Linked DNA regions of Homo sapiens. The protein of the gene in region 1 binds, or shares a complex with, the protein of each later gene. Each region holds a gene or a part of one and is shown on either strand. Other genes may lie near its edges.

Region 1 (3,428 bases):
GCGCTCAGTGGGGCTGGGCAGCATCAGCAGTGCCGCTTGGTGTTTCCTTCATACCAGTGTTAGAGATGGAGCACTTAGGGCAGGGAGAAAGCCCCATTGGTCTATGAATGCAGAGTTTAGTAAGAGATAAAGGGATCACTCTAAGTAGGGGTCATTTATGCAGATGTACATTTTGAAATTGTTACTGTACCATTTGGTGCTTGGTATTTCGGAGTAGTGTTCCAGAGTCTCCCGGGGCTCTTTGGGAGCTGGGGAGAGCCACCACTGGGTGACACTTGGATCTCTCTGGCTCCATCCCGCCCACTCAGGCAGCTCCCCTCAGGTCCCTCCGTAGGCACTGCTGTAGGTGTGAAGATGTGTGTCTACTTGTGCCCTCATGTGATGTTCTAAGACTAACTGCACGCTGTGTTTGCACGCTTCCTCTCGTGGCTGTTGAAACAGGCAATGTATCAGGAACACAGAGGTTGGATTCTGCTACAGTCAGGACTTACTCCTGCTAAAGTCTCCTGTTGGTGAGTAGAGAGCACCACAACCCCTAGAGATGGCTCAGAGGCACAGCAGGAGTCATCGGAGCTGCAGTGCCAGACTAGGGGTGTGGACCATGAAAGCCAGTGCAGTTTTTGGGGAATTTAAAATATATATAGACACAAGCTCTCCGTACCCATTAAGATCATTTTGTTGTTACAATTGATCATAAAGAGGTTAGTGTGTCCTCTTTTTTTAAGGAAAAAAATGTATTTTCACCTTTTCCTTAAACCTGAAAATGCTGACTCATTTTAATTGTCTGTGGATGTCATGGGGGTGGAGTGGGGAGGAGAGCAGAGCATGGCAGAGAGCGTCAGGGGAGAGTCTCTCCTCCTGACGTCGTTATGCACATTGCTGTGATTCCTAAGCTTGCTTTGTTTTAAATACACATTCTTGAATGAAACAAGCCCAAAGTTTTGTGGTTAATTATATATTATACTAAGTGTGACACTAATAGCCTTTCAGTTTGGAGAGACTGGTTCTTAAAACTGCGGACTCTGGCTGGTGAGTGGCCCGCCCTCTCCTTGCTGTTCTAAGCAATTTTAAGGTCTCCGTTGGAATATTTGACTGGTTTGTTCATCTTTTATTTGTAATTGGTAACATGGAGACGTAAGCCAAAATGAAGTCAGCCAAGGAGCTGTCTCATTGATGTGCATAGCCCTTGATGTTCTAGCCAGTGATTCTCAGAGCAGCTACGGCACAGAAAGTGAGGGGTCCTGGAGGGGAGGGGTCAGTGTCGGGGGGACGTTTGGGCCCCAGCATCAGAAGTTCCCGTTCGTCAGTATGGCCCGGCCTGTACTGAGTGGTTTTTTGTTTGTGTTTATTTTCCAGTTTACCCACACTACTTCTACAGATGATTATGCAGCATTTGAATCCAACAAAGACTACATTTTGGAATCCAGTGGAATCTTTAATCTTGTTAATACTTGTTATATGGACCCTAAGATATTTTATTACAGAGTTTTTAATTAGTGAAAAATTCATGAATACCATAGAGAAAATATTTTAGAATTTAATGTTTCTTATATTTATGTAAACTTATGACTCTTCATTTATATAGTTACTTACTTTTTCATGTATATCCAGGCTATAAATATCCTTTCAAATCATGTTCTTATACCTAATTTTAGTCTTTCAAATGAATGTACTGTAATGCTTGTATGTATAAATCCTATGAATAGAGGGCTTTTGTAAATTATGCATTTATTGTAATTATCATTAATTTTTTAATGATAAACCATGACAAAGGATTTTACGTTTATAAAATTATGACAGAAGCCATGTGCATTATCCTTTACGGACGCAGCCTAGCTCTACAGCAATCATCCTGAAATAAGCATACCTAATTTCAAGCAATTGTTGTATTTTCATGACTGACCTTAACTGTACTTTTTCTAGCAAGAGATGCTTTATTCTGCAGCATGAACAGATTTAAAATGGCTGGTGTTAAATATCAGCTCCTAATAAGATGTGGACTGAAAACACTATCACAACACTATGAGAAGCCCCTAGCACTGGTTAACGCTTTCCTAGCCTAGTCTCTGGATTTGGGGAGCTTGTCTTCAGTGGCTGAGACTGTGAGCTGGGAGCAGTTCTCTCAGCTGGAGAGACTCGGGATGGGGTAACCTGGGGACCAGTCTAGCCCCTGCACCCTCTTCCCTGCCTCTGCTCCTTGGGAGCGGGTGGAGAGACACCCATGTGGCTCCCCTTAGGGCCAGCACCAAGCACCACGCTCTCATCCTGCAAGTCGGCGCACACAGTGGATGAAGGCAGGAGACCCAGAAAGCAGTGCAGTGCAGCTCTAATAAAGGCCTTATTTTTCTTATGTAAATCATCTTTTTACATTTGTTTGTAAACATGTTTAAAGAACGAACCTAGTGGGACATTTTTAGACTTTGATGCTCTAGCCATTTTGGATTGTGTAAGTTGCAGATGTGGCTTTTACTTTTTAAATGGCATATTAACAAGCCAGCAAAGTGTGTCAGACCATGGCGTGGTATTTATTGTGCAGCAGATCCAGAGACAGAGGCAGCCTGTCTTTTCAGTTGGTTTCTGCTTTTAATTTACTTGTACAATTCATTGTTACTGTTCTGTTTTTCTATTAATCTTTTGTCAACTTCCTGATTATGTAACAAAGTATGTACAGTCTACTTTTGAACTATTTTTATCACAGTATTATTTATTGCTTTCTTTCAATAAAGTACTGAAGCATTTTCCACTGCCAATGAAGAATACTGAGAATAAGCTCTAACTGTTTTGGAAGGCAGTGTCACCATATGGAAATTGTATTACAGAAGTCAATTGACAGAATAAAGCAGCCAGGAGATGAAGTGCAGGTTCAGGGCGTCATCCTGCCCGCTGCTCTGGAGGTCCCGAGCCTGCATCACTGCAGGAGACAGGTGCCTGGTGTTAAATTGTTAAATGCAAATGTGGGGGCTCACATACACAGTCGGTGGGTAGGGCCCAAAGGCAGAGCCTAGGCCGTGGACCGCGCGCATGCACGCATGTCCCTTAACACCGTTTCCCAGCTCTGCTTCCTTCCTCGGTGCTGGCTTCACACTCCCACCTGCTCTCCCTGCCTGCTCACAAAGGTGGCTCCCAGGCCTGCACCCTTCCACACTGATGGCCTCTGGAAATCAGGAAGCCTGGTTCCCTAATAGCTCACATCCGGTCCTGAGTTGTGAAGCAGCCCAGGGTGGCAGAGGGGAGGCGACACGCTGACAGGCTGGGGGAGTCAAGCAGGGCCCACCCATGGAAGTTGGTGAGCTGAGGCTGAAGGGCTGGAAGCTGATGCCCAAGAGGAAAGCCAGACACCAGCAAGTGTCCCTTCCCCTCCTCCCACCTCAGTGTTGCCATTGAGCCTGGGATTCGCAGAGCCCATGGCCACCACCACCCCACCTGGA
Region 2 (3,824 bases), on another chromosome or scaffold:
CTATTCTCCTATAGATAGGATCTTGCTATGTTGTCCAGGCTGGTCTTGAATTCCTGGACTCAAGCAATCCTACTTCCTTGGTCTCCCAAAGTGCTGGGATTACAGGCACAGGCTATTGTGCCTGGCCAAGAAGTACATTTTATATTGTGATCCAGTATGCACATGTGCATGCATATGCACACCTGAAACATTGCAGAAAACAATACTGTTATCTCTTGTTGCATTACAATTACTTCAGAACTTACTGGATTTGAAAAACAAACATCTCAGATTTCATGAAGAGTGTGTTGGGTGATTCTGGCTCAGGGTATGTAGTGATTTTATTTCATTTAAAACAAACAAGAAAACAAGCTTGGTTGCAGCTTATCAAGCTGATTTCACAACCTACTATTGGGTCATAATTCTAAGTTTGAAAAACACTGACTGGGGACTGTTACCGTTTGGCTGTGTCCCCAGCAATCTCATCTTGAATTGTAGTTCCCATAATCCCTACATGTTGTGGAGGGACCTGGTGGTAGCTGAATCGTGGGGTCGGTTACCCCATGCTGTTCTGATAGTGAGTGCTCACGAGATCGATTTTATTTTTTCTTTTTTGAGACAGAGTCTTGCTCTGTCACCCAGGCTTGAGTGCAGTGGCATAATCTTGGGTCACTGAAACCTTTGCCTCCTGGGTTCAAGTGAGCACGTCTGGGTAATATTTGTATTTTTAGTAGAGATAGGGTTTCACCATGTTGGCCAGGCTGGTCTTGAACTCCTGACCTCAAGTGATCCACTGACCTTGGCCTCCCAAAGTGTTGGGATTACAGGCGTTAGCCACCGCGCCCAGCCTAGATCTGATGGTTTTGTAAGGGGCTCTTCCCCCTTTGCTTGGCACTTCTTCCTGCCGCCATGTGAAGAAGGATGTGTTTGCTTCCCCTTCTGCCATGATTGTAAGCTTCTTGAGGCCTCCCCAGCCCTGCAGAACTGTGAGTCAATTAAACCTCTTTCTTTTATAAATTACCCAGTCTTATGGGTAGTTCTACATAGAGCTTGAGAATGGACTAATACAGGACTCTGAGGCTAGAGGCAGGCAGTCAGGTTAGAAAGTTGTTTTAATTCAGGTAGGATAGGATGGCATAAACCAAGGTAATAATTGTGGGAATGGAGGAAGAGGATCAATTTAAGAGGTACCTAGAAATCAAAGCAACAGGAATTGTATTGTTTTGATAATATGTGTGTATATGGAGTATGAAGATTTTGGGAGGACTCTCAGGCTCTGGCTTGAGCAGCTGATGTTATTCATGTGAATAGATGTTGTCCACTACCATGTTCTTTTTTTGATTTTTTTTTTTTCCCCTGCAGCAGCAGGTTTGGTTTTGGAATGGGGAGACCTTGATACGGAGTTCAGTTTGGGGGCATGGTGTATTTGAGGTGCATGTGAGGAGTATAAGTGAAGATGTCCAGAAGTGGGATACATAGTTTTGATTCTCAAAGGAGAAGTAAAAAAGTACTGGAGAAGTAGTGAATTTGGAGTCTTTGTTGTACATATGTTATTTTAAGCTGGTGGAGGCAGGGAGAAAGGATTTCTTAAGGATGATATTGTAGTGTGAGAATAACATAGGGATGAAGATCAGAAACATTTAAGGGAGGAACGAACAAAGAAGGAGGAGGGTTAGAAGAAAAGAGCATATGATATAAAGAAACCAAGAGAGGAGAGTGTCAAAAAATTGGGAGTGCTTAAGAAACAAGATGTATTATAGACAGAAGTTAAAAAGGCATTAGAGAGGAAAAGTGTTCATTAACTAAGGTTTCTCTGGAGAAGCCAGAGGGAATGGGGACTAAAGTACCCTGTGGAAGGATTAGCTGTAGCCCACTTCCATCAGAATAGAGGAAGTTAAGGATGGTTGTTGCTGTCAATGAACATGTGGAGAGAGAAAGTTGAGATAGTTCCTGTTTGATTTCTTTGTTTCTCTCTTATGTAGGAGATGAGATACGTAAATTTGATAGGGCTGCTGTAAGAAAGTACCATCAGCTGGGCACGGTGGCTCACGCCTGTAATCCCAGTACTTTGGGAGGCTGAGGCAGGCGAATCCGTTGGGCCCAGGAGTTCGAGACCAGACTGGGCAACATGGTGAAACCCCACCTCTACCAAAAATACAAAAATTAGCTGGGTGTGCTGATGCTCGCCTGTAGTCTCAGCTACTCGGGTGGCTGAGGTGGGAGAAGTGCTTGAGCCTGGGAGGTTGAGGCCACGGTGAGCTGTGATTGTACCACTGCACTCCAGCCTGGGTGACAGAGGAGACCTTGTCTCAACAAACAAAAACACAAAACATCTCCCGCCTCTCCACCCCGCTCCCCCCACAGGTTTGAAACCACCTGCCTGTTATTTCAAACCACCTGTGTGTTCACATTTTTGAGGACTTTTAACCTGTTTGACCAGAATAGATACTGTCTTTAGAATCTCATTTTTGACAATATGATTTACTTGGTACTGTTTTCAATGAAGAAACACTTATAAGAATCAATTTACATAACAATGGATTTTGGGAAAATATTGTTTAATATGCTGAAGCCTGTTGTTACTTGACCTAAGCCAATGCTTTGAAATGATGCTAGGAAATCAGAGAGATCTAGTTTAGATCTATATTGTCTTTGAAAGAAGTCTATAAAGTTGATAGCTATAGTTTAGTGGGTTCTGCATCCACAGCTCAAACCACCTGTGGACCAAAAATATTTGGGAAAGAATCTTAAAGTCACCTTGAAAAAAAAAGTGGAAAAAAAAAAAAAAAGAAAATACTTGGGAAAAAATAATACAACATGGAAAAATAATACAAATAAAAAACACAATAAGTATAACAACGATTTACATAGCATCTACATTTTATTAAGTATTATAAGTAATTTAGAGATGATTTAAAGTATGCTGGAGGATATCCATAGGTTTTATGCAATTACTGTGTCATTTTGAATCAGGGACTTGAGCATCCTGGGATTTTTGTTGTCTGGGGCAGTCTTGGATATCTGGATACGTTCTACTGGAGCCAGTCCCCAGCAGATACCAAGGGACAACTGCCTGTGGTTTTAAAATTTGTTTTAGTTATACTTGTAGAGTATGAACATGTTTTCTTTTTTGAAAAAAAAATTCAGGTGCTTTATGGTAGTTTGAGTGTAAAGCTTTCTAAGTTGAGCTAAAGCCTCCACAAACATTTTTCCCCTTTATAACACAAGTTTCCTTCCCTCTAATTATCGCTGTTTCAAAATTGGCATTTCCCGTGTAGGAATTCTTTACATACTCTGTTTACAGATCATTATACTTATGTTCACTGTATTTTTCACCTAGCTTTTGGTTTATCTTTTAATTTTATTTACAGCATTTTTTGGTATAATACTTTGTCATTTTGACATAATTAAGTGTGTTGGTTGTTTTTCTTTATGGTTTTTGCTTCTGGTTTTTTATTTAAGAAGCCTTTTCCTAACTCAAGTTCACAAGGATATTCTTCAAAATTTTCTTCTAGTACTTTTAATGGCTTAAAAAATTTATATCTTTAATGTATATGGAATTTATTTTGGTGTACTATGTGAAGACGAGTATACGTTATGTTTCTCAAAGAGCAACAAGTATTTAAACTTCATTTATTGAGTGATTTTTCATTTCCTCACTGTATTAGTCTGTTCTCATGTTGCTAATACAGACATACCCGAGACTAGGTAATTTAAAAAGGAAAGTTTTTTTTTTTTTTTTTTTTTGAGACGGAGTCTCGCTCTTGTCACCCAGGCTGGAGTGCAGTGGCGCGATCTCGGCTCACTGCAATGTCTGCCGCCTGGGTTCAAGCTTCTTATGCCTC

The links.
Region 2: PPFIA1 (region 1) and ERC1 share a complex: the UniProt entries of both Homo sapiens proteins name them as parts of the cortical microtubule stabilization complex.

The regions. Positions count from the first base shown.
Region 1 is NC_000011.10:70,381,647-70,385,074, forward strand, and holds the end of PPFIA1 (liprin-alpha-1), read left to right. Parts: intron 1-441; coding exon 442-500; 3' UTR 501-512; intron 513-1,356; coding exon of another isoform or gene 1,357-1,382; 3' UTR 1,383-2,750; downstream 2,751-3,428. UniProt on the Homo sapiens protein: May regulate the disassembly of focal adhesions. May localize receptor-like tyrosine phosphatases type 2A at specific sites on the plasma membrane, possibly regulating their interaction with the extracellular environment and their association with substrates.
Region 2 is NC_000012.12:1,022,090-1,025,913, forward strand, and holds part of ERC1 (ELKS/Rab6-interacting/CAST family member 1), read left to right. Parts: intron 1-3,824. UniProt on the Homo sapiens protein: Regulatory subunit of the IKK complex. Probably recruits IkappaBalpha/NFKBIA to the complex. May be involved in the organization of the cytomatrix at the nerve terminals active zone (CAZ) which regulates neurotransmitter release.